Regions from separate parts of the Homo sapiens genome. Here region 2 is linked to region 1. The links come from fine-mapping of genetic effects on gene expression. A gene starts in region 1. The other region holds a variant in brackets. All regions are shown on one strand. Distances are from middle to middle. Region 1 holds the start of PRC1 (protein regulator of cytokinesis 1). Region 2 holds the start of PRC1-AS1 (PRC1 antisense RNA 1).

Region 1 (13,235 bases):
AAAAATCACTCTACCACTCTGTACCTGAGTTTCCTCTACCATAAAATGAGGGAGATGGCTGAGGTGACCAGCAAGCACGTTTCCAGTTCTAAAATGTTGTGATTCATTACATTTTTGAGAAAATGACTTTGTTGTTTTAATTTAAGGAGGCACTTCAATTTTAAGCGTTTGTTTCTTATTGCAGAATGAAAGATTGTGTGCCATTAGAGCCATTTCAGGCATCAGCAAACAGTGCTCCTATAAATGTGCCAGCACCCTCCTCATTACTGATGCTAGTAGCCTTTCTCTCTCTCTTTACCTTTTAAAAATGATGAAATATAGGCCAGGTGCTGTGGCTCATGCCTGTAATCACTGCACTTTTGGAGGCCGAGGCAAGAGGAACGCTTGAACCCCGGAGTTTGAGACCAGCCTGGATAACATGGGAAGACCCCGTCTCTACAAAAAATAAAAAAATTAGCCGAGGGTGGTGGCACACACCTGTATTCCTAGCTACTGGGGAGGCTGAGGTGGGAGGATCCTTTGAGCCCAGGAGGTCGAGGCTGCAGTAAGCTGTGACCTTGTCTCAAAAAAAAAAAAAAAAAGAAGGAATTACAACCACCTATATTAGTGGCCTCTTTTCAGGCCTCTTCCAACTTGATCTCACTGATGACTATGCTTTCCTTGAAATTGTCTTATTCAGCTTCCATAATACCCTTTCTTTGTCCTCCCACAGTCTCTTAGGTTGTTCTTTGATTACTCCTCTCTGCTCATCCCATTTGCTGACATCTCCCCTCTCTCTGTCCTTTGTTGTCATCCACTTCCAGATCTCAAGCCTTCATCTCACTCCTTAGCGCCACACAAGTATTTCCTACCTGGTCATTCCACAGGCACTTCAAACTCAGCATGTACAAAATAAACTCATGAGTGGAAGCTCCTGTCCCTACTTGAATCCTTTAATCTGCTCTTCTTCCTGTATTCCCAAACTTTGTTCAAATGAGCAAAAAATTGTATTCTTGACCTCAGATTTTTTCTTTCTATGCCCCACCTTCAGCTGGTTCCCTTGTGCTATTGGTTCTTATTTCTAAATGTCTCTAGTTCATCTTCTCCTCACCATCCCTACGACAGAGGTCTTTATTGTCTCTTGCCTGGGTTTTTGCAAGAGTGTGCCTCCCAGCTGCTCATTCTTCCATCTGTTCCCCATTCCACAGTGCTGCCACTTACTAAAAGGAAGAAAGAAAATCAAAACCTGAGTTACTGGATCATCAAAAGTATTCTTCCTATAGAATAATGATCATTCTGGGCCCCGCACGGTGGCTCACACCTGTAATCCTAGCACTTTGGGAGGCCGAGGCAGGCAAATCACTTGAGGTCAGGAGTTTGAGACCAGCTTGGCCAGCATGGTGAAACTCTGTCTCTACTAAAATATAAAAATTAGCCAGCTGTGGAGGCGCGCACCTGTAGTCCCAGCTACTCATGAGGCTGAGGTGGGAGAATCGCTTGAACCCAGGAGGCAGAGGCTGCAGTGAACCGAGATCATGCCACTGGACTCCAGCCTGGGCAACAGAGCAAGACTCTGTCTCAAAAAATAAATAAATAAATAAGAATAATGATAATTCTGTATAAGAATATATTCCAAGGAAAAGGCATTCCTCAAGCATCTAGCTAGAATTTTGAGTGTTATGTCAAGCTAGTGTGCAAGACCAAAGACACTGCCAACAGGGCTGTTAATTCACAGAAAGAATAGGTGGCATCAGAAAAAGATTAAACAGTGGCAAAACATTGCACTTCCATCCAGTAGAAATATATGACCCTGTAATAGGATTTTTTTTTTTTTTTTTTTTTTTTTTTGAGAAAGGGTCTTGCTTTGTCGTCTAGGCTGGAGTGCAGTGGCGTGACCATGCCTCACTGCAGCCTTGACCTCCTGGGCTCAAGTGATCCTCCCACCTCAGCCTCCCAAGTAGCTGGAACTACAGGCTCATACCACCACACCTGGCTAATTTTTGTATTTTTTATAGAGACAGGGTTTTGCCACAGTGCCCAGGCTAAGGTCATATATTATAAACGCGTATTACACAGTGTTTTACATGCTGCGTTTATGCTCTGAATGGATATCTTTGCATCAGTTCTATGACTTTGTTAGCCTCAGCACCTCAGTGTAAAGGACAAGAGAGAAAAAATTGCCTTTTCTTTGGATACTTCATAATGCTGGTGCTAAGAACAAGTATGAAGATCACAAATTTGTGAAGCTTTCTGAAAAGCTCTCCTGTTAATTTAATCAACAAAGAATGCAAGTAAATTTTAAAAGTAGTGCTACCATCTACTCTATTAGTGGTGTCAATGTTAATCACAGAGTGCAAGGAAATTGAAAAAGTGGTGCCTGTCGCCCACTGTGTTGGTGCTGTGAATGTTTGGCATGCTGCTGACAAGTTAAAAAGAACATGGAAGCCGGGCGCGTTGGCTCACGCCTGTAATCCCAACACTTTGGGAGGCCGAGGCAGGCGGATCACCTGAGGTCAGGAGTTCAAGACCAGCCTGGCCAACATGGCAAAACCCCGTCTCTATTAAAAATACAAAAAAAAAAAGTATCCAGGCATGGTGGTGCGTGCCTGTAGTCCCAGCTACTCGGGAAGCTGAGGCACAAGAATTGCTTGAACCCAGGTAGCGGAGGTTGCAGTGAGCTGAGATTGGGCCACTGCACTACAGCCTGGGTGACAGAGCGAGACTCCGTCTCAATTAAAAAAAGTAAAAAGAACATTGAAAGCACTAATGAAGTTTTTCTGAAAATAAGAAAAATATGGTTCTGAAGGTGAAGCAAACAAGCATCCTTTACCTTTAGGGAAAAGGCATATGAAGAGGATTCACTTAAGTTACAGTTGGCCAATAAACACGAAAAATGTGCAATTTCAATTATAATCAAGTGCCAAACAAGGAAATGCCAGTATTATTATTTTACCTACAAAATGAGCAAAGATGTTTAGAAGTACAATAGAATTCAGCCCTGCTGAGGGTAACAAAAGGAGGGTACTTTTCCGGTGAGGCTTTGTGCAGAAGGCAAATTAATAAAGGGAGCATTCAGTAATTACACCTCTAGGAATCAGCCGTACGAAAATGCAGGATGCATTTATAAATACATACATACACAAAGATTTATGTATGAAGATATTCAGCCCAGCCTTATCTTTTAAATTATCATCTAAATATCAATAGCAGAATGGGCGAGATATCTACACACCAGGATTCATGCCACCATGCCACCATGAATCACTGGGAAAAAACGGTGATATATAAGCATTTAGGGATGTAACATGTTCATCGAGGAAAGGAGGCTACAAAAGTAATGTCTATTTTGAGTTTTAAATTTTTCATGTAACGATTTAGAAACTCATCTAATTTGATAACGTGACTTAGGCAAATCATTCAAATCTTTTTGCGTTTCCTCTGCAATGGCGATTGTGGAGGTTAAATGGGATAACTGGCGTTGAAACGTTCCAGGCCCATGAGCAGGACTCAATGTTCCTTCCCTTCCCCTTTAGTGTATGGCTTCTTACATCTGGGGAAGAGTCCCACCAAAGATCGATTCCAAGCTTCGCTTCTTGGATGAGCGAGGGAAACTAGGCGCTAACTTACCTATTCACCCCCGCGCCCGTTCCCGGCAGCCGGGACTCAGGGAAGCCAGGTAGCCGCGGTGCTCTCAACTCCCTCCCCGCCCGCGCACTTCGAATCCAAACTGCGCGGGGCGAGGCGGGGCGGCGCTCCGATGAGGTAGCTGGCTTGGGAGAGGAGTCCCTTGAGGCTGCCGCCAAGCCAGGGAAGCGGGAGGCGCAGGCCACGCCCGGCCACTCACAGACAGTGACGTCATCCCCCGCCGCCACTCCGGCGCTTCCCAGGCCCTGCTCGCGAGTCCCCACCCCGATTGCGCACCCGCGACTTCAGCCCGAGGGGCGGGGATTTTCTTGGAGCGACGGGACGCGACGCCAATCGCGACGAGGCTTCGCCCCGTGGCGCGGTTTGAAATTTTGCGGGGCTCAACGGCTCGCGGAGCGGCTACGCGGAGTGACATCGCCGGTGTTTGCGGGTGGTTGTTGCTCTCGGGGCCGTGTGGAGTAGGTCTGGACCTGGACTCACGGCTGCTTGGAGCGTCCGCCATGAGGAGAAGGTGCGGGTTGCGGGGAAATCGAGGGGACGCGGGAGGGAGCGACGCTCGTTTCGGCTGCGGGGCCTGTTCAGGGGTGCGGGACCCGTGCGGGGTCCCGGGCCTAGATCGTCACGGCAGTCGGCGCCGAGGGAGGCCGGGGGCGCTGAGGGGCAGGGTCTGGAGGCGGCGAGCCAGTGCGAGGGCCGCGGCGGTGAGACCTGACGCGCTGTCCGCCGGCGGCCGCAGGTGCCCGCAGGCTCAGACGCCCGGGTGGGAGCCGAGCGCCGGTGCCCGGACGCGGCAGGGTAGTCGAGGCCCGGGGCCCGGGGCGGCCTCCACCCAGGCGGTCAGCGCTGGCGCTCGGACCCCACCCTCCCCGCCCGCAGCGTCTCAGGTGCCGCTGCTTGGCGCAGATGACTCGTTGTAAACCTTCTGTGGTCGTGGCTTTTCTTTAAAGCTGTTAAGTTTATTTATCGTTGTTTTTCTTTGTTTTATTCTTTTTTTTTATTTTTGTGGAAACGCGGTCTATGTTGGCCAGGCTGGTCTCGAACTCCTGGCTTCAAGTAATCCTGCCACCTCGGCCTCCCAAAGTGTTGGGATTACAGGCGTGAGCCACCGTGCCCGGCCCGTTGTTTTTCTTTATATCTGGCCAGCGGTGTTAACGTTTTGTTTGAATTGGAAAGATAGCTTTGTTTCTTTGCAAGTTAAGAAACGGATTATGGAATTCTTTTCCGGTCGTTTTAATAACTTCCTAGGCGGTGTTGGGGAGGGACTGTCCGACTTGAAATCGGGACCAGACGGTGACACTGCCACTTACCAACCTTGTGACTTCCAAATATTAACTTTATTTTCTAAAAGTTGTGGATGCAGTTTTCTGATGATACAGCGTTAAATAATGTGTAGTTTTTGGTGGAACTGATTGTTCTAAGGCTTTGTAAGATTCTTCATTTCATGATCACTAATTCTGATCAGTCTTTTTAAAATGCTTGCCCTCAGAATAATGAGAATTGAGTGCCAACATGGTAAAACCTTGTCTTAACTAAAAATACAAAAATTATCTGGCCCTGGTGGCGCGCCTGTACCCCCAGCTTTTCAGGAGGCTGAGGCAGGAGAATCGCTTCAGCCTAGGAGGCAGAGGTTGCATGAGCCGACATCTCGACACTGCACTCCAGCCTAGGCGACAGAGTGAGACTACGTCTCAAAAAAAAAAAAAAAAGTCCATTAACAGTTTATGAATTATGTAGGCATCTCCTCTATCAAGGGATTGAATGAAGCAGGAGAAAACTTACCCTTTAATGTTGGTTCCAGGCTAATGGATATAATTAACTTTTTTTTTTTTTTTTTTTTTTTTTTTTTTGAGACGGGGTCTCACTCTGTCGCCCAGGCTGGAGTGTAGTGGCGAGATTGCTCACTGCAGCTTTGACCTCTGAGGCTCAAACGAAACTCTGGCCAGAATTAATTATGGTTATCGATCCCCGAAACAGGTTGAACTGGAGATCAACAAAGCTCCTTCTCTGGAATGCTAAGAAAAAATAGGGCAGTGGATCAGTGAAGGCTGCCTGAAGGTAGAAAATAATTTAAGGACCACTGTGAGATACCTTCCAGTCCAGTGATTTATGTTCAAGACTGGAAAAACTGACTCATTTTACAACCTTTTTGTCCTTGAGTGGTAGTCTTTGTATGCACTCTTGATTTTTTTCAGTGAATCTAAAAAAAAAACTCAGACTTGCTGCTTTTAGGGGATTATCTGAAACAATTTAGCCAGGGAGTATTTAAGTGTATCATGATAATTGTTCATAATGATTGCTCTGAAGCATCTTAAGATCATACAACTTTTTTGAAATGTCACGTTATTCATTCAAAAAGACTTCTTGGGCCTGGCACAGTGGCTCACACCTGTAATCCCAGCACTTTGGGAGGCCAAGGTGGGAGGATGACTTGAGCCCAGGAGTTCAAGACCAGCCTGGGCAACATAGCAAGACCCTGTCTCTATTTAAAAAATAATAATTTATACTAAAAAAGAAAAGAAAAATACTTCTTGAATGTTTGTTATATACAAGGAACCATTGCAAGTGTTGGGGATATAGCAGTGAGCAAAAGTGACATCCCTGCCCTCACAGAGTTTATATTCTAATAGCAAAAGAGGAGTGTAATAAATAAGTTAGTCTTAAATGGTGGTAAGTGCTATGTAGAGAAATCAAGAGGTTAAGAAGTACTGAAGGTGTAGGAAGGGGGGTTGTGGTTTTAAAGAGATGGGTCAGGAAAGGCCTCCCTGAGAAGGTGATCTCTGAGCAAAGACCTAAGAAGGAAAAGGGTGAAGCCATGCAGCATGGGGGAAAAGAGATCTAGGTAGAGGAATCAGCAAATCCAAGTGCCCTAAGGGGAGATAGCGCCTGGTATGTTCCAGAAAGAGCAAGGAGGTCGCTGTGACAGGAATAGAATGAGCACTGAGGTCAAAAGAAATGGCTTTCAGATGGAATGGGGCTCCATAGGTCTTTGGAAAGTCAGAGGCTTTTCCTTAGAGTGAGATGGCAAGTCGTTGGAGGGTTCTGAGTAGAAGATTAGGACTTGGGGCTCCTGTGTTGACAATGGACTTAAGGAGGCCAGCTTCGAAGCCGGGAGACCAGTTAAGAGGCCCCTGCCATACAGCAAGAAGTTGGTGGTGGTGACCTGGACCAGGGTGGGGGTGGTAGTGGTAGCAGCAGAGGTCAGGAGGAGTGAGATTCTGCCTGTCTTGTGTAGATAATGCTAATGGCGGGCATATAAGAAAGAAGTGTCAAGGATGATACAAGATTTAAGTTTAAAAAAAAAATTAAGTTCAGTACAATTTGAATGTTAGGAAGAGTGAGAAATGTTAGTTTTTAATTTGAAAATGATCCTCTTACAGGAAGTGTCTCTAACTAGAATAATAATAATGGGTGTTTGGTAATTCCAAACACCCATTTCCAACAGGCCAAATAAAATACGTTATATATTAGTAAAATTTTTATTTCTTTTTTTTTTTGGAGACAGTCTTGCTCTGTTGCCCAGGCTGGAGTGCAATGGCATGATCTCAGCTCACTGCAACCTCCGCCTCCTGGGTTCACCGGGTTCAAGTGATTCTCCTGCCTCAGCCTCCTGAGTATCTGGGATTACAGGCACCCACTACCACGCCCAGCTAATTTTTGTATTTCTAGTAGAGATGGGGTTTCACCATGTTGGCCAGGCTGGTCTCGAGCTCCTGATCTCAGGTGATCCGCCCGCCTTGGCCTCCCAAAGTGCTGGGATTGCACACGAGCCACCGCGCCCGGCCATAGTAAAAATCTGTAAGTTTTTCAATTAAGTCACAAATCAAAAACATTTCAGATTATGGGCCGGGCACAGTGGCTCACGCCTGTAATCCCAGCACTTTGGGAGGCCGAGGCGGTCGGATCACGAGGTCAGGAGTTTGAGACCAGCCTGACCAACATGGTGAAACCCCGTCTCTACTAAAAATACAAAAATTAGCCGGGCGTGGTGCCGTGTGCCTGTAGTCCCAGCTACTCAGGAGGCTGAGGCAGGAGAATCGCTTGATCCCAGAAGGCAGAGGTTGCAGTGAGCTGAGATCACACCATTGCACTCCGGCCTGGGTGCCAGACTGAGACTCTGTCTCAAAAAAAGAAAAAAAAAAGAAACCAAAAATGTTTTAGATTATGTGCCAAGATGTTTTTAATAACAGCTTTGAGGTATAATCCACATACCATACAATGTACTTAAATTGTATATTATAATTCAGTGATTTTTAGAATATTCAGAGTTGTGCAATCATCACTGCAATCAATTTTAGAACATTTTTATCACCCCTTTAAAATCCCATTAGCAGTCAATCCCCTTTCACCCCATGGTCCAAATTCTCCCCAGCCGCAACTACAAATCTACTTTTCGGCTAGGCAAGGTGGCGCACACCTATAATTCCAGCACTTTGGGAGCCCAAGGTGGGAGGACTACTTGAGCCCAGGAGTTCAAGAACAGCTTGGGCAACATAGAGAGACTCTACCTCTTAAAAAAAAAAAAAAAATTATTTATTTATTTATTTATTTATTTTATTTTTTATTTTATTTTATTTTATTTTTTGAGATGGAGTCTCACTCTGTCACCCAGGCTGGAGTGCAGTGACGTGATCTCAGGTCACTGCAACCTCCACCTCCCGGATTCAAGCAATTCTCCTGCCTCAGCCTCCCGAGTAGCTGAGATTACAGGTGCCCACCACCACACCCAGCTAATTTTTGTATTTTTAGTAGAGACGGGGTTTCACCATATTGGCCAGGCTGGTCTCAAACTCCTGACCTCGTGATCCGCCGGTCTTGGCACCCAAAGTGCTGGGATTACAGGAGTGATCCACCGCACCCGGCCTAAAAAAAAATTTTATTGTTTAAGTTAGCTGGGTGTGGTGGCTCACATCTGTAGTCCCAGCTACTCCGGAGGCTCAGGTGGGAGGATCACCTGAGCCTAGGAAGTTGGGGCTGCAGTGAGCCATGATCATGTTACTGCACTCCAGCCTAGGTGAAAGAGGGAGACCCTGTCTCAAAAAACCATACAAACCCCAAATCTACTTTTTACCTATTCTGGATATTTCATAAAAACGGAACCGTAGCTCTGGTCTTTTGTGACTTGCTTCTTTGACTTAACATAATGTTTTCAAGGTTTATTGCCAAATAATATTCCATTGTATGCCTATATACTACATTTTATTTACCCATTCATAAGTTGATGGCCATTTGTATTTTTTTTTTCACTTTTTGGCTATTATAAGTAATGCTGCTATAAACAGTTGTGTAGTTTTTGTATAAATGTGTTTTCATTTCTTTTGGGCAAATACCCAGTAATAAAATTGCTGAGTTGTATGAACTCTGTTAAACTGAGGGGCCGGGTGCAGTGGCTCATGTCTGTTATCCCAACACTTTGGGAGGCCGAGGTGGGAGGATTGCTTGGGCCCAGGAGTTCAAGACCAGCCTGAGCAACATGGCAAACCTTAAAAAAAAAAAAAAAAAAAAAAATTAGCCAAGCACGATGGCACGTCTATGGTCCCAGCTACTTGGGAGACTAAGGTAGGAGAATTGCTTGAGCCCAGGGCGTTGAGGCTGCGTTGAGCTATGATCACACCACTGCACTCCAGCCCAGGTGACAGTGAGGCCCTGTCTCAAAAAACAAAAAATCAATTGAGGAACTACCAGACTATTTTCCAAAGAGGCTGTACCGTCTTGCATGCCCACAAGCAGTGTCTGAGGGTTCTAGTTCCTCTAGATTCTCACCAATACTTTTTGCTATATATTTTTTTTTATTATACCATCCTGTTGGCTATGAAGTGGTTTTGATTTGCATTTCCCTAATGACTAATATTGAGCATCTTTTCATGTGCTTATTGGCCATTTTTATATCTTCTTTGGAGAAATGTCTATTCAGATTCTTTGCCCATTGTGCTAGATTTTTTTACTCAGAAAAACGATCACTTTACCTTCTAGATGTGTTACAGAGATAGGCAGCCCTGCTTGTAAACCTTCGTCAGGATCCAGAGTGCATAATACCTCTATTAGGTTAGGTAGGTTAGGAGCATAGGACCCTTTGGGAGGAATTCAGGGCCATTCATTTTATATCTATTGAACAACTACTGTGAGTTAGGGTGTGGTAAAATGAAGATGAATAAGATGTGGTGGTCCTTGCCCTTGAGTTTATGGTCTACTAGGGGGCTTGGGGGGAATGGTGAGTGACAAGTCCACAGCTCTCCAGAGGAGGTGGTGGCATATAGACGGAACTGAATGTACAAAGCGCGGTGGCATCAGAAAATGAGAGTTGCATGTGGTTTATTGAGGGGCATTGTTCAGGAAATGCCCGGGAAGTTCAGCTGGCCAGAGACCTGGGGAGTGTCAAGTGGGAGAGATTAGCAGACAGACTCGGAGAGAGGTTTTAGAAGGCCTTTCTACAGAAGGTGGTTGAACTATTTCCTGAGGGCAGTGGAGCCTTTGAAGGGGAGTAGTTAAGCGGGGATCTGATGGGATTTATTATGAACAACTAGCTGTTATGTGGAGATTGGCTGGGCAGGGGTAGGTCTGTCAGACTGAGGAGACTGGGATACTTAAGTAATGACCTTCAGAGCAGTGCCCCTGGCTGGCCTGTCTGGAAGCCAGGGTTTTGCATCCAGATCGAATATTGGCCACAGATTGGATCTTAAAAGTTATTTTTAATAAAATGGTAATATTAGGATTTTAACTTGTGCATTCTTTTGTCTTCAAAATGAAGTGCAAAAGGAGTGTTTGCCTGGGGAAGCTCTTTAGTTGGACTTTAGTTGAGATTATGTTAAATAAATGCCTTACTTACTGTTAACATTTCTCTTTTTTTCCTTTAAGTTCTGTTGGACTTGAACTGTTAACATTTCTAAAGTGAAGGGAGTACCGTAAATTCTTTTAAACGTTTGTCAGTATTTGGGTATTGGTATGGCCATCTGGTATAGGCAACAGGTATTTGTGTAGAAATGTTTCTTCAACAAGGACGGGCAACCTCTAAACTAGGATTTCGTGGCTGGAGATATTTTGGATGTGAATGTATTAACAGCTTTGGAGAGACACATTGTTAGAGATCCAGGCTGGTGACTTGTAGAACCACCGAAAGCTCTGAGACAGAAAGGGGCTAATGAAAGTCTCTAGTTGCAGTTGGGTGTGGATGGCACACAAAGACCTTAAGTGTTTAGGTGATTTGCTGCAGGCTTCTCGGCCGACTGGAAGCAGAGCACATCTAGATTGTAGTTTCTCTGGTGCCAGGGCAGTCTTAGTTGTCCTGTTATACCTAAGAAAAGGGAGAAAAATTTCTATTCTTTAAATGTTCTGTAAAGCAGACTAATTGTGATAATTTTTAAAGTAAGCTGTTCTTAAAAGATAAGATACAGAAGCCAGTTAAATTTGTATTTTAGATAAATAATTTTTTGTTAAAATAAGCTTTTGGTAATTGAAGAATAACATACATTCAGAAACGTACAGAAATCAAGTGTAAACTCAGTGAATTGTTCACAGTTGATGCACCTGTGTAAGCAGCAACCCAGAAGCCCTCTACCAGTCACTGCCTCCCCTGAGCCAAAAGAACTACTATCCTGACTTCTGAAAGCATTGATTAGTTTGGCCTGGTTTTGTTTTTGCTTTTTTTGTTTTCGTTTTTGAGATAGGGTGTTGCTTTGGAGTGCAGTGATCATAGCTCACTGCAGCCTCATCCTCTCAGGCTCAAGCAATCCTCCCACCTCAGCCTCCTGAGTAGCTGGGACTATAGGCATACGTCACCGTGCCCGGCTAATTTTTTTTTTTTTTTTTTTTTTAAGACGCAGAGTCTCACTATGTTGCCCAGAATGATCTGAAACTCCTGGGCTCAAACAGTTTTCCTGCCTCGGCCTTGCAAGGTGCTAGGAATACAGGCGTGAACTACCGTGCCTGGCCAGTTTTGCCTGTTTTTGAACTCTCTGTCAACGGAATCACATAGTGATACACATTTGCATATCTAGTGGCATTTGCTCAGCCTAAAGTGTTTTTTTTTTCCTTCCTCTTCCCCTTACAACTATTTTTTAGTTGTTTATTTTACTTCATTAAAAAAATGAAAAGATTTGAGGTATAATTCATACACAGTAAAACAGACTCGCTTTACAGGTAGTTTCAATTGTATACTGTTGTATAATCGCCATCAAGATCTAGAACTATTTCATCACCCCAAAAAAGTAAAATAAATAAATAAATAAAATAGAAATATAATAATTTGAGCTTTATCCATATCATGTGTAGTGTGTTCATTTTCTTTTTTGACAGTTTCGCTCTGTCGCCCAAGCTGGAGTACAGTGGTACAATCTTGGCTCACTGCAACCTTGGCTCACTGCAAACCCTGCCTCCCGGGTTCAAGCGATTCTCCTGCCTCAGCCGCCCCAGTAGCTGGGATTACAGGCGCACCACCACACCCAGCTAATTTTTTGTGTTTTTAGTAGAGACAGGGTTTCCCCATGTTGGCCAGGCTGGTCTCCTGACCTCAAGTGATCTGCTCCCCTCGGCCTCCCAGAGTCCTGGAATTACAGGTGTGAGCCACTGCACCCAGCCAGTTTGTTCATTTTCATTGCTGCATTAGTGCATTGTAGGAATGTACTATTCATTCTGTTGATAGACATCTAGGCTGTTTCTGTTTCCCTGCTATTATGAGTAGTGCTTCTCTAACCATTCTCATATATGTCTTTGGTGAACGTATGTGTTCATTTCTGCTAGGTATGTATGTAGAGGTAGAACTGCTGGGTTCAGCTTTAGTAGATAGACTGCCAACAGTTTTTAAAATAGTTGTACCAATTTACACCATGCCAGCAGCATATGAAAGTTCTCACTTTTCTATATACTCACCAACACTTAATGCTGTCTTTTTAACTTTAGCCATTCTTTGAGCTGCTAGTTGTAATTTAAGAAGAATAGGCCAGGCATGGTAGCTCACGCCTGTAATCCCAGCAATTTGGGAGGCCGAGGCAGGTGGATCACTTGAGGTCAGGAGTTCGAGACCAGCGTGGCCAACGTAGTGAAACCCCATCTCAATGGCTTTTTAACTTTAGCCATTCTTTGAGCTGCCGGTTGCAATTTAAGAATACTAGGCCCGGGCGCAGTGGCTCATGCCTGTAATCCCAGCACTTTGGGAGGCCGAGGTGGGTGGATTTTTGTGTTTTTGTAAAAATACAAAAATTAGCTGGGTGTGGTGGCACACACCTGTAATCTGAGCTACTTGGGAGGCTGAAGCAGGAGAATCACTTGAACCTGGGAGGCGGAGGTTGCAGTGAGCTGAGATCTCACCACTGCACTCCAGCCAGGGCAACGGAGCGAGACTCTGTCTCAAAAAAAAAAAAGAAAATAAAAATAAATAAATTAATTAAATAAAATGGCAAGGCACAGTGGCTCACATATGTAATCCTAGCACTTTGGGAGGCCGAGGAGGGCGGATCACTTGAGGCCGGGAATTCAAGACCCACCTGGCTAACATGGCGAAACCCCAACTCTACTAAAAATACAAAAATTAGCTGGGTGTGGTAGCACCTGCCTATAGTCCCACCTACTCGGGAGGCTGAGTCAGGAGAATCATTTGAACGCAAAAGGTAGAGGTTGCA
Region 2 (16,404 bases), 25 kb after region 1:
TATGCCTGTAATCCCAGCTACTCGGGAGGCTGAGGCACAAGAATCGCTTGAACCCGGGAGGTGGAGGTTGCAGTGAGCTGAGATCGTGCCACTGCACTCTAGCCTGGGCGACAGAGTGAGACTGTCTCAAAAAAAATGTAAATTTGCTCACTGCTTCACAGCCAGTAAAGAGGGTGATTCCAGATTGAACCCCATTAAGTCTGATTTCAGAGTCCTGCTCCTAATGTTCACCGCCTATTTCATATTGCTGATCTTCCCTGTGCTGCCTCCAACTTCAGGCACCAAAACCTTAGTGGTCAAACTTTGGGTTCTTGCCATTTTCCACTCTTGTGTGTTGTGTGAATGAAATGTCTCCGGGCTTTGATTTCTGGTCACTCTGACCTGTACCCATGTGGGCCCAGCTACCTGAAATGAGGCTAATGATGCTCTGGGGAGGAGGAGTCACTCTCTAGGGAAATCATTTCATTTGGGCTTTGCACTAAAGAGTTGAAGTAATTAACATGTCCTTGTTTCTGGTCTCAGCTGGAAGAAGAGTTGAAGGCACGAATTGAATTGTGGGAACAGGAACATTCAAAGGCATTTATGGTGAATGGGCAGAAATTCATGGAGTATGTGGCAGAACAATGGGAGATGCATCGATTGGAGAAAGAGAGAGCCAAGCAGGAAAGAGTAAGTGTGAACGTGAACGCAAATTGGGAAAAGACGAAGAAAGTAATCTGAGCAGCCCATAGTCTCTGCCGGGGACCAGGGTTTGTGGAACAGGGAGCCGGGGACCGGGGCTTGTGGAACGGGAAGCCGGGGACCGGGGCTTGTGGAACGGGGAGCCGGGGACCGGGGCTTGTGGAACGGGGAGCCGGGGACCGGGGCTTGTGGAACGGGGAGCCCGCGGCAGCTCTTTAGCTCTGGCTGTAGAGACACGGGCCTAGATTCCCGGCCCTGCTGCTGTTGCCATCCCAGACCCGCTCTCTTCCTGAGATTTATCACTGTTGCTTCTGACTTTCACACAGCAACTGAAGAACAAAAAACAGACAGAGACAGAGATGCTGTATGGCAGCGCTCCTCGAACACCTAGCAAGCGGCGAGGACTGGCTCCCAATACACCGGGCAAAGCACGTAAGGTAAACACAAGGCTTAGGGAAACACTGATTTCAAGGGAGTGGGTGAGGGTAGTCCCAGCCACCTCTTTGAAGGGGGCCAGCCCCTCCACACCTGTGGGTATTTCTCATCAGGTGGGACAAGAGACAGAGAAAAGAAATAAGACACAAAGTATAGAGAAAGAACAGTGGGCCCAGGGGACCAGCACTCAGCATACAGAGGACCTGCACCAGCACCGGTCTCTTGAGTTCCCTCAGTATTTATTGATTACTATTTTCACTATCTTGGCAAGGGGAATGCGGCAGGAGGACAGGGTGATAGTGGGGAGAAGGTCAGCAGGAAAACGTGAGCAAAGGAATCTGTGTCACAAATAAGTTCAAGGGAAGGTACTGTGCCTAGATGTGCACGTAGGCCAGATTTATGCTTCTCCCCACCCAAACATCTCAGTGTAGTAAAGAGTAACAGAGCAGCATTGCCGCCAGCGTATCTCGCCTCCAGCCACAGGGCAGTTTTCTCCTATCTAAGAATAGAACGAACATAGGTACGTACGATCGGGTTTTACACCGAGATATTCCGTTCCCAGGGGCATGCAGGAGACGGAGGCCTTCCTCTTTTACGAATCCTCCTGAGCACAGACGACGGGTGTCGGGCTGGGGGATGGTCAGGTCTTTCCCTTCCCACGAGGCCATATCTCAGGCTGTCTCAGTGCGGGGAAATACCTGGACAATACCCAGGCTTTCTTGGGCAGAGGTCCCTGCGGCTTTCCGCAGTGCATCGTGCCCCTGGTTAATCGAGAATGGAGAATGCAGATGACTTTTACCGAGCATACTGCCTGTAAACATATTGTTAACAAGGCACATGCTGCACAGCCCTAGATCCCTTGAACCTTGATTCCATACAGCACATGTTTCTGTGAGCACAGGGTTGGGGCTAAAGTTGCAGATTAACAGCATCTCAAGGCAAAACAATTTTTCTTAGTACAGATCAAAATGGAGTTTATGTCTTCCTTTTCTACATAGACACAGTAACACTCTGATCTTTCTTTTCCCTACCTCTTGCCCTCTGTCCTGCAGAGATGGGAAAGGGTTTTTCTGTCCCTGCATGTCGAGTCCACTTGAGTGGATGGAAGGCTGAGTAGCGGCCTATAGTGACAGTCACGGAGTGGCCAGCTTTGGTGTCTGTGCTTGTTGCGTCCTTGCATTAAATTCGGGGTGCGGTGGGGGAATGATTGCCAACATTCTGGTAACGATGAAAAGAAAGCTTCAGCAGTTTTCCTGAAAACCTGTAATGCCATTTTCCCTGTAAGACCAAGAGATGGCCTTGTGGTACCATGTGAAAAACAACGTTCACGCTTACTAAATGGAAGATGTAATAATTCTTCATCTCTACAGCACAGTCAGAGAGGACTTTTTTTTTTTTTGAGATGGAGTTTCGCTCTTGTTGCCTAGGCTGGAGTGCAATGGGTGATCTCAGCTCACTACAGCCTCTGCCTCCTGGTTTCAAGCAATTCTCCTGCCTCAGCCTCCCAAGTAGCTGGGATTACAGGCATGTGCCACCACACCCGGCTAATATTGTATTTTTAGTAGAGACAGGGTTTCTCCATGTTGGCTAGGGTCTTGAATTCCTGACCTCAGGTGATCCACCCACCTTGACTTCCAAAGTGCTGGGATTACAGGCGTGAGCCACTGTGCCTGGCCTACTTTTTTCTTTTTGATAAATAAAAGAGTATTATTTCTTCTCTCTACTGCTATTTTATAACATTAAATTTATTATTTTTAGACAGTGTCTTGCTCTATCACCCACACCGGAGTGCAGTGGCGCCATCATGGCTCACTGCAGCTCAGCCTCCTGGGCTCAAGTGATTCTCTAACCTCAGCCTCCCATGTAGCTGAGACTTACGGGCACATGCCACCATACCCGGCTAATTTTGGGGTTTTTTTTTTTGTTGGTGGTGTTTTTTTTTTTTTTTTTTTGAGTTTCAGTAGAGATGAGGTCTCACTAAGTTGTCCAGGCTGGTCTCAAACTCCTGAGCTCAAGTGATCCTCCTGCCTCAGCCTCCCAAAGTGCTGGGATTACAGGCATGAGCCACTGTGCCTGGCCTAAAATGTGTTTTTTTTGGTTTTGTTTTTTTGAGACGGAGTCTCGCTCTGTTGCCCAGGCTGGAGTGCAGTGGCGCAATCTCAGCTCACTGCAACCTACACCTCCTGGGTTCAAGTGATTCTCGTGCCTCAGCCTCCTGAGTAGCTGGGACTACAGGCCCGCGCCACTATGCCCACCTAATTTTTGTATTTTTAGTAGAGATGGGGTTTCACTTTGTTGGCCAGGATGGTCTCAATCTCTTGACCTCAGAAGATCTGCCCGCCCCAGCCTCCCAAAGTGCTGGGATTACAGGCGTGAACCTCCACCTCCCGAGTAGCTGGGATTACAGGCATGTGCTACCACACCTAATTTTGTATTTTTAGTAGAGACGGGGTTTCTCCATGTTGGTCAGGCTGGTCTCATACTCCCGACCTCAGATGAGCCACCGTGCCCGGCCCCCTAGAATTTTTTTAATTAAAAAAAAAAAAAAAAAGTGTTGGCTGGGTACAGTGGCTCAAGCCTGTAATCCCACTACTTCGGGAAGCCAAGGTAGGGGGATTGCTTGAACTCAGGAGTTGGGAGACTAGGAAACATGTTGAAGCCCCATCTCTACTACAAATACAAAAATTAGCTGGTTGTGGTGGCACACGCCTGTGGTCCCAGCTACTCAGGAGGCTGGGGTGGGAGGATTGCTTGAGCCCAGGAGGTCGAGGCTGCAGTGAACCAAGATTGTACCACTGTACTCCAGCCTGGGTGACAGAGTGAGACCCCATCTCAAAAACATTTACAGCTCTTATCATTAGCATATAATAAGTTTTGACATATGTAGGTTTATACAATGAAACTGTCACCATAATTTAGATAATGAACATTTCATGGTCCCCAAAGTTTCCTAGTGCCTCTTTGTATTACCTCCCTCCTTCCCTGGCTCCTAGTTTGCCCCCAGCCTCTAGCTGTGGCGAGTAGGGATTTAGTCTTTAACTAACTATAGATTAGTTTTCATTTTGAAACATTTTACATAGAATCCCGCAGTACATATTCTTTTTTGTCTGGCTTCTTTCATTTAGTGTAGATTCATCTCTGTTGCTGTATGTATCAAAAGGTCACTCCTTTTTATTGTAGATCAATATTCATTCCACTGTATGAATTTACCACAGTTTGCTTGTCCACTTACCTGCTGATGGGTATTTGGCTGTTGCCAGCTTTTGGCTGCTGCAGGGAGCTGTTGTGAACATTTACGTCTAAGTCTTTGTATGGATCTATGCTTTCATTTCGTTTGGGTAGAAACATCTAAGAGTGGAATGGCTGGGTCATATGCTAGATGTCTTGTGCCACAGTGGTTGTACCATTGTACACTTCCATTTGCTGGATAGCAATAGGCTTTGAAAATTTTTCACAAGTTACTTCAAATCTATGCAGTATTAGACACAGCAGGCCCTTCACCATGTAAACCCGTCTTCCCTAGACTGCCTCCTCCCATAGTCATTTCTCTGTAGGGTAGACAGGTTGCTAGAAATGCTGAGGATGTTACTGCACATCAGTTACCCACGTGCTCTTCTCCCTAGCTGAACACTACCACCATGTCCAATGCTACGGCCAATAGTAGCATTCGGCCTATCTTTGGAGGGACAGTCTACCACTCCCCCGTGTCTCGACTTCCTCCTTCTGGCAGCAAGGTTAGTATGCCCTGTGTCTAAGCACATCCTCACATGCGTCCCTAGCCTGTTCACCCAGAGGCCCCACCTACTTGTTCTAGATTCTAAGATCCCTGGATTTGGTTCTTATTGAGATGCTGAGAGTTGACAGATATAAGCTAGCTCACCATTAAATAATGGTCCAAAACTAACGTGCAAAAAAAGAGAACAGTCACTCTGAGCCCCACTGGTACCATGGGAAGCACTGGGATGTGTCTGGGAAACTGAAGATCAGGCAGGGTCGCTGTAGACTCAATTCCAAGCCCAGTCCTCAGCTGGTATGGAGATAGGTCCCCTACATGTGGGTTCTAGCCCAGTGAAACCAGATCACTAGACATGCCAGGTACTCAGTAGAGATGTGGAAAGTATGTGGCAAAACACATTCAGTCTTTCAAATATTTTATTAGACTATGCTCAAGATAGGTGTTCTGTAAATCAAGAATTCATATTTAAAAAAAATTTTTTTCTAGAGACAGTGTTTTGCTATGTTGCCCAGGCTGGTCTCGAACATGTCGCCTCAAGCAATCCTCCTGCCTTGGCCTCCCAAAGTGTTGGGATTATAGGCATGAGCCACACCCAGCCCCATATATATATATATATATATATATATATATATATATATGTTTTTTTTTTAACTAAAAAGTATAGGATTATAGACATGAATATAAAGATAGTCTCAGCCTTTGACCAGTGCAGGTATTGTGTGTGCGTGTGCACGTTCATTAGAAGGATGATACATGGATCTCTTTCCTTTCTCTGCAGCCAGTCGCTGCTTCCACCTGTTCAGGGAAGAAAACACCCCGTACTGGCAGGCATGGAGCCAACAAGGAGAACCTGGAGCTCAACGGCAGCATCCTGAGTGGTGGGTACCCTGGCTCGGCCCCCCTCCAGCGCAACTTCAGCATTAATTCTGTTGCCAGCACCTATTCTGAGTTTGCGGTAATTCACCTTTTCTAATATCTACCAGTCTCTGGGGAGCACACAGTTGGGGCAGAGTGGGTATCTTCCCAGGGGCACCCAGGCTATTAGCTAGGGCAGCTACCTTGGAGGCTGAGAATCCCTTTCCTGCTTTGACCATGGCAGGGTGGGTGTGATTTAAGGGGGGGTTGTGTAGGAAGGAAGTTGGCAGCAGCAACTAGACATTTAACCTGGATCCTTCTGCTTAATACATACCATTCCCTGGCTGCAGGAGGCAACCCCTCTATCACTGTCCTGGTGCTCTCTTGGTGGAGTTCTTGGTAATTGTCTTAATTCTTTGTTCTTAGAAGGATCCGTCCCTCTCTGACAGTTCCACTGTTGGGCTTCAGGTCTGTATGGCAATCCCTGCATGTCCCTTTTCCAAACTGATCTGTCATCTGCTGGCTTCATTCATCTGGGCACAGGGCTACACTAACTAATAATCTCAGCAGTGTTACAAAGGAAGCAGGAATTCCTATCATGGACTCAAAAAAACACATCTGATTTACATTCACAACAGATTAATTAATAAAATTTGTTCAGACTTGAATTGGATTCTCAGCCCCTAAAGTCAGGCACAGTTTTAAATCACGTTTAACAGAAAACCTTGACCCTCCCCAATTGTGACATCAAAGGCCTGCAATAGCTGGAAAGAATAGAGGCCCCCAATCACATGGGGAAGGGAGCCCCAGCTGTGTGCTGCCTACAATGAGGCTCTTGGCCTGTGTGCTGATTATTTCCTGGAGTATATGCCTTCCTAACCCCTCAGGGCTTAACCGCCAGCTCTATTCTCAGCTAGCTAATGCTGATTTCCTCACCTTTGCCTCTTTCCATACATTGAGCTACTGAAGCATAGATGAAGCACTGGAAGCAAGTTTTTCCAGAATGCTCTTCACTTCCTAGTATCCTACTCTATATTTGCTAACACCTAACTACACTGCCTTTTACTTAATCTGTGATTTCTTCTCTCAATATTTTACTAGCAAGAGGAGAGGATGTTCCTCACCCTTGAGGGGATATTGAGTTAAACCCCTAGCCTGCCTCCCCTCTTAATTGCTGCAGGGATAGAGAATGGAACAGTTGGCCAAGGCTGCAGCTAGTTTTGATCACTGAAACTGGCTTCCTACTCCAGCATGTTTTTCAAATTACGTGGCTGGTGGTGCTTCTACCTTTAAAAGTGGGTGTGTGTCACTCTGGCTGATTGCTGGACAGAGGTCCAGCTTTCTCTTTTTCGCTTGTTCAACCAAGGCCCATTTTATCTGAGGCTTAAATGTACCTGCCTATCTGTGTGGCTAGTCCTAGGTAGGTTCGTCTGGTTTGGGTTGCTATGGCTGATAGACTCCACCAGGCAGCACCAAAGCCGGTAAACTAACCTCTGCTAATATCTGTCTTTCTCAATAGCCATTCATGCTTTATCTTTTGCTGCTCTACCATGTGCTCCAGCATGAGATCAAATCACCAGCAGGTTACAAGGCCTCAGCCCCAGGGATTGGTAGATATATGTTCTGGCCCATTGTTTTATAAAGGGCTCAAGAGACCAAAGCTTGTTGCCTACTTACCTTGACAACTCTAAAGTAGCTCTGTGAAGTAGAGTCATGCCTCGCTTAATGACAGGGATATGTTCTGAGAATGTGGGGCAATTTCATTGTGCACATATCAGAGTGTACTTAACAGTCCTAGACAGAACAGCCTACACACCTAAACTATATGGTATGGCGTTTTCCTCCTAGGCTACAAACCTGGGCAGCATGTTACAGAAAGAATACTGTAGGCAATTGTGGGTTTTTTTGATTCAGGCTATTCCTGGGATACTGTAGGCAATTGTAACGCAATGGTAAGTATTTGTGTATCTAAACATAGAAAAGGTACAGTAAAAATATGGTATAATCTTATGGGACCACCATAGTGTATGTGGCCTGTCGTTAACTGAAACATCATTATGCAGTGCATGACTGTATGAAGGATTTCTCTTCTGTGAGGTGTAACAGAATGGACTGGCTGAGGAAAAAGGGGTCACGGGCATGCGTGCACATGCACTCTGTCTGTGACTAATAGAATGGTGCTCAGAGTTCCTCACCTTTTACTCCTAACGCAGCCTATTGCAGGCTAGGGATCTCAGAGAAACTACCTTCAAGGGACCTTTTGCTGACACTTAACCAAACTTAGAAGGGTGGGCCATGTGTAAGAGAGGCAGTATGGCCACTGATGTTATTTATTTTTCAACAGCGAGAACTTTCAAAGGCTTCCAAATCTGATGCTACTTCTGGAATCCTCAATTCAACCAACATCCAGTCCTGAGAAGCCCTGATCAGTCAACCAGCTGTGGCTTCCTGTGCCTAGACTGGACCTAATTATATGGGGGTGACTTTAGTTTTTCTTCAGCTTAGGCGTGCTTGAAACCTTGGCCAGGTTCCATGACCATGGGCCTAACTTAAAGATGTGAATGAGTGTTACAGTTGAAAGCCCATCATAGGTTTAGTGGTCCTAGGAGACTTGGTTTTGACTTATATACATGAAAAGTTTATGGCAAGAAGTGCAAATTTTAGCATATGGGGCCTGACTTCTCTACCACATAATTCTACTTGCTGAAGCATGATCAAAGCTTGTTTTATTTCACCACTGTAGGAAAATGATTGACTATGCCCATCCCTGGGGGTAATTTTGGCATGTATACCTGTAACTAGTAATTAACATCTTTTTTGTTTAGGCATGTTCAATTAATGCTGTAGCTATCATAGCTTTGCTCTTACCTGAAGCCTTGTCCCCACCACACAGGACAGCCTTCCTCCTGAAGAGAATG[T/A]CTTTGTGTGTCCGAAGTTGAGATGGCCTGCCCTACTGCCAAAGAGGTGACAGGAAGGCTGGGAGCAGCTTTGTTAAATTGTGTTCAGTTCTGTTACACAGTGCATTGCCCTTTGTTGGGGGTATGCATGTATGAACACACATGCTTGTCGGAACGCTTTCTCGGCGTTTGTCCCTTGGCTCTCATCTCCCCCATTCCTGTGCCTACTTTGCCTGAGTTCTTCTACCCCCGCAGTTGCCAGCCACATTGGGAGTCTGTTTGTTCCAATGGGTTGAGCTGTCTTTGTCGTGGAGATCTGGAACTTTGCACATGTCACTACTGGGGAGGTGTTCCTGCTCTAGCTTCCACGATGAGGCGCCCTCTTTACCTATCCTCTCAATCACTACTCTTCTTGAAGCACTATTATTTATTCTTCCGCTGTCTGCCTGCAGCAGTACTACTGTCAACATAGTGTAAATGGTTCTCAAAAGCTTACCAGTGTGGACTTGGTGTTAGCCACGCTGTTTACTCATACAGTACGTGTCCTGTTTTTAAAATATACAATTATTCTTAAAAATAAATTAAAATCTGTATACTTACATTTCAAAAAGATATAGTGTGGTGTTTCCTTTTTTTCCCCAGTCACTTTTTAGTTGGTTGGTCTGTGTGTGAAAAACAAACACAAAAAACTAAAAGGACCTCCTGGAAATTTTTAGTCAGGAGTGTGATTTTTTTTTTTGAGTCTCACTCTGTCGCCCAGGCTGGAGTACAGTGGCACTATCTTGGTTCAGTGCAACTTCCACCTCCCAGGTTCAAGCGATTCTCCTGCCTCAGCCTCCCGATTTGCTGGGATTACAGGCACGCACCATCACACCTGGCTAATTTTTGTATTTTTAGTAGAGACAGGCTTTCACCATGTTGGCCAGGCTGGTCTTGAACTCCTGACCTCAGATGATCTGCCTGCCTCCCAAAGTGCTGGGATGACAGGCATGAGCCACAGCACCCGGCCGAGTGTGATTTTTAAAATATTCTCTGGTACATTTCTAAATTAAGAATATCTCTTACTCTAATTTTTTGGTGAGAAATATAAAACCTAACCCCTGATGTGTAGAGAGCAAAGGGAGTCCTAGGATGCTTCTGGCTTCAATGCCGTTTGTCTCAATATGGGGAGGCTGCCCAACTTCAACAGCGTTACTGAAGGAGGATGGACATAAACTGCACACATGTGAAGCGTAAGAGAAAAACCATCGCCACAGTCCAGTTAACCAAGTCTCTCTACCCCAGCAGTTCTTCCCACCCCTTTCTCACTCCTCCTTCCCAGCCTCACCCTGCCGAGCAACCACTGATTTTTTTTTTTTTTTTTTTTTTTTTTTTTGAGATGGAGTCTCGCTCTTGCCAGGCTGGAGTGCAGTGGCACAATCTCAGCTCACTGCAATCTCTGCCTCCCAGGTTCAAGGGATTCTCCTGCCTCAGCCTCCCGCGTAGCTGGGACTGCAGGCACGTGCCATCACGCCTGGTAAATTTTTGTATTTTTGGTACAGACAGACAGGGTTTCACTGTATTAGCTAGGATGGTCTCGATCTCCTGACCTCATGATCCGCCCACCTCGGCCTCCCAAAGTGCTAGGACTACAGGCATGAGCCACTGTACCTGGCCCACCGATTTGTTACTACAGATTAGTTTGCGTTTTCTACAGTTCGATGTAAGTAGAATCATACAGTATATATTTTTTTGGTCTGGTTCTTTCACTACTTTCAGATTTACCCATATTGTTGCTTATATCCATAATTCTTTTTTTTTTTTTTTTTTTTTTTTTTTTTTTTTTTTGCTTAGTATTCCATGGTGTTGATATACCAGTTTATTCGCCTGTTAGGTTTATTTTTCACATTTGGCTTTTCTCCAGTTTTTGGCTATTAAAAACAAGGCTGTTATAAACATTCATGTACAAGTCTTTGTATGGATATATTTTTTTTTCTGGATAAATACCTAGGAGTGAAATGGCTGGATCACATCTATGGTATGTGTACACTTAACTTTTTAAGAAATGCCAAACTGGGCCGGGCATGGTGGCTCACGCCTGTAATCCCAGCACTTTGGGAGGCTAAGGTGGGCAGATCACGAGGTCAGGAGTTCGAGACCAGCCTGGCCAACATGGTGAAACCCCATCTCTACTAAAAATACAAAAATTAGCTGGCTGTGGTGGCACACACCTGTAATCTCAGCTATTCAGGAGGCTGAGGAAGGAGAATTCCTTGAACTCAGGAGGCGGAAGTGGCAGTGAGCTGAGATTGCACCACTGCACTCTAGCCTGGGCAACAGAGCAAGACTCCATCTTAAAAAAGAAGAAATGCCAAACTGTTTTCCAAAGCAGTTGTACCATTTTACATTCCTACCAGTAATGTATGAAGGTTCCAGTTTCTCCACATCTTCACCAACAGTTGGTATGTTCAGCCTTTATGTAATTCTAGTTATTCTGTGTATGGAGTGGTGTCTCACTATGGTTTTCATTTACAACTCCCTAATGACTAATGATGTAGAGCATCTTCTCATATGCTCACTTGCTATCCTTCTGTCGTCTTTGTTGACTTTTGTCCATTTTAAAAAATGGCTTGGCCAGGCATGATGGCTCATGCCTATAATCCTAGTACTTTGGGAGGCTAAGGCAAGTGGATCGCTTCAGCCCAGCAGTTTGAGACCAGCCTGGGCAATATGCAACAACCCCATCTCTACTAAAAATACAAAAAACTAGCCAGATGTGGTGGCACGTGCCTGTAGCCCCAGCTACCCGGGAGGATGGCTTAAGCCCAGAAGGTGGAGGCTGTACTCCAGCCTGGACAACAGAGAGACCCTGTCCAAAAAAAAAAAAAAAAACCCACAATGAAATACCACTTCACACCCATTAGGATGGCTGTTAACCAGAAATAGAAAACAAGTGTGGACGCGGATGTGGAGAAATTAGGATTTGTGTGCACTTCCAGTGGGGATGTAAAATGATGCAGCCTCTGTGGGAAACAGGGCAGTTCCTCAAAAAAATTTAGAATTACCACACAATCCAGCAATTCCACTCTGGGTATATATCCAAAAGAACTGAAAGCAGAGACTCAAGAGAGTTGTACACCCATGTTCCCAGCAACATTATTGACTGTAGTGAACAACTCAGATATCCACCAATGCACGGATGAATAAAACGCAGTGTATACATACAACAGAATCTTAGCCTTTAAAAGGCAGGAAGTCTAGATACATAAGCTACATCATGGATGAACTTGGAGGACATGCTGCTAAGTGAGATAAGCCAGTCATAAAAAGACAAATACTATGGGATTTCACTTACATGAGGCACTTACAGTATCATAGGAACAGAAGGTTAGGACTGTGGTTGCCTGGGGCTGGGGAAGGGGAGACTGACGAGTTAAGTGTTTAATGCACAGAGTTTCAGCATAGAATGATGAAAAAGTTCTGGAAATGCATAGGGGTGACGGTTGCACAACAGTGAATGCATATAATGTCACTGAACTATGTACTTAAAATGGTTAAAAACAATTTTTGTTTTTTATTGAACATAAATTTTATGTTCAGTATATTTTACCACAATAAAAAAGACCCCATGGGTGGGAAACATTTGCTAAACCACAGACACACACATGCACAAATAGAATTTAACTATAAAGAAAACTACTGATAAGCTTATTTTATCAAAATAAGTTGATACTTGTAAAGCACTTTGAGCCTTACCTGGCATGGAGTAAGCATCACCTAAGTATTAAAATTGGTAATACCAAGAGAGACTGAAACAAACTACATTGTAGCAGAAGATACTCTGAATACTAACTCTCAAAAGACTTGTATCTGAAATATCCAAAAGAAAAATCACTAAGGAAAATACAGAACATTTTAAAAGGCCAGAAAACTTGAACAGGCACTTGACAACAGAAAAACTCCAAGTGGCCAATAAACATATGAACTCTTCGCCTCAAGCAATCTCCCTGCTTAGCCTCCCAAAGTGCTGGGACTACAGGTGTGAGCCACCATGCCCAGCCATCCAAAACAAATGAAAAGCTACTCAACCTCATCAGTATCCAGGGAAATGCCAATTAAAACCAGTGTGCATCTACCTGACATTTTAGCCACAGTAGACCCCACCCTGCTGGGGGCAACAGTTATCTAGTAAAATTAAAGGTATCTCCTGACTTAGCAATTCAACTCAATGTTCTGCAAAGGAACTTGTGCACATGTGCAGAAGACTGCACAAAGAATTATGTGGAATGACCAAAATCAGAAACAATAAAAATGACCATCAACAAGGCTGTATCACTTGAGGTATTATTCATACAACAGAACACCATATAGCATTAAAAATGAACTCCAGGACCCAACAAGGATGGATTATACAATGCTGAGTGACAAAAACGACACAAAAGCACATACACAGGATTCCATTTATCTAACACTCAAAAGCAAACACAACTATGTCGTATAAGGCTGCATACAAGAATGGTAAAATTCAAACGAAAGCAGGGAAATGACTGACAGAAGACGATGACCTGGAATGTGCCCCAATCTCAGCTGCACATCAAATGTACCTGGGATGAGGTGGGTGGAGCTTTGAATCTACCACTATCCAGGCCACACACCTAGAAGCTCTGGTTTCATTGTTTCATTGATTTCATTGTTTTGATTGATGCTGACCTTAGGCAGCAGAGTTTTCAATGCTCTCCAGGTGTTTCTAAAGTGCAGACAAGTTTAGGACCGTGCTTGAGGGTGAAGGGCAGGACTGTGATGGGGAGGGGCAAATATGGGGCCCTTGGGGTGCAGGCAATGGTTTTCCTTGACCTGAATGGGGGTCTCACAGGTGTTGCATATACATATACGTACACATGTCAGCTCTTCCCTTTCTCCACAGCATACACGTAGGTGTTCCACGGCCCACAGGTGACAGCCTTTACTTGGAGTTGCTTATCTACAAAGTATTCCACACGGCGAGGCCGATCCAAGCTGGTGGTGTCCTCGTGGCCCAGCTGTCCATATTTACCTAAAGTGAAATCAGCCCCTTTGCCATCGTCTCCACTGGGTCTTGCTGCTGCTTTCCCTCCAGGAAGGGGCCCAGACTATCAAATGAAGTGCTGGGATTATGCCCCACTGCTCTGTGAATCCAAGAGACCCAGAGCCAGGCAACCTTGGGGATCCCCAAGAGGCTAGTGGCGACCAGCCACTCCAGGCAAGACGCTCCTCCAGACTTCCCTGCTATCCAAGCTAAGATGTTCAGAGCACACACTTCCATCGAATCTTTTTCTCCACCCAGTGTCACATCCACAAAAAGCTGCTTTGTAAGTGCTGGTTGGATACTCCCTTAAGACAGTCTTTCAGAGAGGTAGGCGGGTGGTACCGATATCCTCTCCATGTCTCCCCTGTCTGGCCTCGGACTGAGCGCGCCTATGTCTGTTCCAACCCCAGGGAGGGAGCAGTCCTGTTCCTCCCAGTGACCTGGCCGAGGCCCCTGCTTCCTCCAGTCTTGTTGGCTTTGTCACCTGCCCTGTACTCCCAGGTCTTTCTTCTCCTTGGTTTCAGGGTCACAAAAACAATCCTTTTACTTACCCCAGCCCCAGGTGTAGAGCTCCCCTGTTCCTGAAAGCAAAAGGACAATCGATAGTTGTCACTACGGTTCTTTGGCAAGGCATCTGTCCAGCCCAGCTTGGCACAGCCCACAGCTAGCATATTACAATCCTCATGAGATCTGCCTGGCATGGAACAACATATTCTCTTAACAACTGGCTGATCACACGTGGCATGGCAGAGGATCCCGAGGGAAAAAGTGGCGGATCTTCCTGTGTGCCATGCTACCGAGCGCCGCAGTCTTCCATGCCAGACTGGACAGTCCCTGCTGTCAGAGGCGGCGGCGGGCAGGGAATGTGTCTGTGGCCGTGCAGGGAGGACAGAAAGCATCAGCCTCCCACCAGAAGGAAGAAACTTCTGGGCCTGACAGGCTGGGGAACTACTGTGAAACAACAAGGGGGTTGGGGCTTATCCACTGAGCAAGGTAGCTGCTCTGTATGAGCCACAGAAGCCTTAAGACAGAAGTTTTTCCGTCGACCACACCCCCTTCCGTAGGCACCAGCTCGAGTGGAGCAGAGTGCCTCCCAGCCCCACTCACGTGTCACCACAGCTGTGTGCCGGGATCCACAGCTGGCCTTGACTGCATCTGAGCCCATGGGGAGATCCAGTAATGCCGGGAAGGGCTGGACAGCTATGAAGGGGGCAGGGGCTCCATCCTCAGCCCCACCCGTTCTCTTCACCTGAGAACCATCTTCATTCAGTTCTGTGGCTTCAGAATGATAATAATGATGTGAACACCAACTGAGCCCTGAGCTAAATCTTATTCATGCAGTCACTTATTGCCACAACAGCTCTGAGGTACACGACTGCCTAGCTCCAAAGCTGGTGCTCCCAACCCCTACATTCTGCAGGCAGGGCTGGCACTGCTGCACAAGTGTGTTGTGCCAAGACCGGCATCAGCCTTGCCAATGCTCCCTCCCATAAGGGGCTCACATGCTCCATCTGAGCAGTGTAGCTCTGAGGCCAGCATACAGCCAGGAGTTAGGAATGACAGCCACATCCTGGGGAGACGGCTGTGGGAGCCGAGATGACCCTCACCTTCCCTTGCGACAGTCTCTCCATCCTCTGCCAGGTTCCTGGTGGGCAGGGCCAGCTGCCCTGATTCATTCCAGCCCCAGATATAAATATCCCCAGTCTCTGAAAGAGATCAAGGGGACACATGAAACAGACTGTGAAGCCCCTGCATCCATCCAAACTCTCCTCCCCATCGCATCCGCTCCTGGGGACAACTAAAGCCTGCCCTGCCCAAGGTAGCACTCCAGGCCAAGGCGCTTCCCCTCGGGCCCCAGGGGCTTGTCTTAGGTTCACATCCCCTCAATGCCTTCAGATCACCCTTTAAGTCCCTTACTGGACCTTCTACTTCCATTCTTATGCTGCCAAATAGCCCCTCATTTCAGAAATGTATCCCTAGAAGTACCGCAGTGGTCTCCCTTTCAAAACCACTGGGCCAGGGCCAGGTGCATTGGTTCATGCCTGTAACCCAGCACTTTGGGAGGCTGAGATGGGTAGATCACTTGAGCTCAAAAGTTCGAGACTAGCCTCAGCAATATGGCAAAATCCCTGTCTCTAAATAAGTAAATAAAACAACCACTGGGCCGGCCTGTGCCCCTTTTTCAACTGCACCCACAGCCGGTCCTGATGAAAGCCACGTGCAGCTCTCCCCTTCCTGGCCTCCCACAACACTGGAGCTTTTTGGTTGGAACAGCTGCCTAATTCTAAAAATTTCTAACAATAGCTGCTTTATGAAGTGCTTAATCCATGCTGATGTTTCACATGCTTTTCAAATATAATCACTTAATTCTCACAATAGCCCTACAGGTGGTTTTATGACAATATCACCATTTACGCAGGATCCCTATTTTATTCACAACTGAGGCACAGAGGGGGTTAAGTACCAGGCCCGAGGTCCCAGGGCCCGAGCAATGATCTGAAACTAGGAAGTCTGGTGGGATGTGTCCGTGCTTCAGCCTCTACACTAAACTTAAGGCCTCAAACTCCTTCTGGACCTTGAGTGCAGGGCGTCCCACTGGGCTGTTTCCAGCCCTCTGGTCTCTCCAGCCCAAGGTTGGGGTTTTTTTTTTTTGTTTTTTTTTTTTTTTTAGACAGACAGAGTCTCACTCTGTCACTCAGACTGGAGTGCAGTGGTGTGATCTTGGCTCACTGCAACCTCCACTCACGCGTGGCTCA

What was found.
Region 2: its variant is fine-mapped to the expression of PRC1 in lung (TOPMed, PIP 0.98).

What each region holds. Positions count from the first base shown.
Region 1 is chr15:90,985,307-90,998,541 of GRCh38, reverse strand. PRC1 (protein regulator of cytokinesis 1) reads left to right here and starts at 4,007. Exons shown (of 15, transcript NM_003981.4): 1 at 4,007-4,135. The coding sequence starts at 4,125. It overlaps LOC124903556 (a long non-coding RNA gene), which reads right to left and starts at 3,763. Exons shown (of 2, transcript XR_007064759.1): 1 at 3,607-3,763; 2 at 917-1,199. It overlaps PRC1-AS1 (PRC1 antisense RNA 1), which reads right to left. Exons shown (of 4, transcript NR_051984.1): 4 at 9,918-10,912. It also overlaps a transcript of VPS33B not described here. RefSeq lists enhancers at 2,967-3,833, 3,834-4,701 and a silencer at 4,251-4,470.
Region 2 is chr15:90,958,850-90,975,253 of GRCh38, reverse strand. RCCD1 (RCC1 domain containing 1) reads right to left here. Exons shown (of 8, transcript NM_001017919.2): 5 at 15,256-15,354; 6 at 14,756-14,926; 7 at 14,200-14,229; 8 at 12,129-13,636. The coding sequence ends at 13,485. It overlaps PRC1 (protein regulator of cytokinesis 1), which reads left to right. Exons shown (of 15, transcript NM_003981.4): 10 at 523-669; 11 at 1,008-1,118; 12 at 4,740-4,850; 13 at 5,631-5,807; 14 at 6,134-6,175; 15 at 8,052-9,214. The coding sequence ends at 8,123. It overlaps PRC1-AS1 (PRC1 antisense RNA 1), which reads right to left and starts at 8,885. Exons shown (of 4, transcript NR_051984.1): 1 at 8,576-8,885. The variant T/A (reference allele first, on the strand shown) is at 8,626.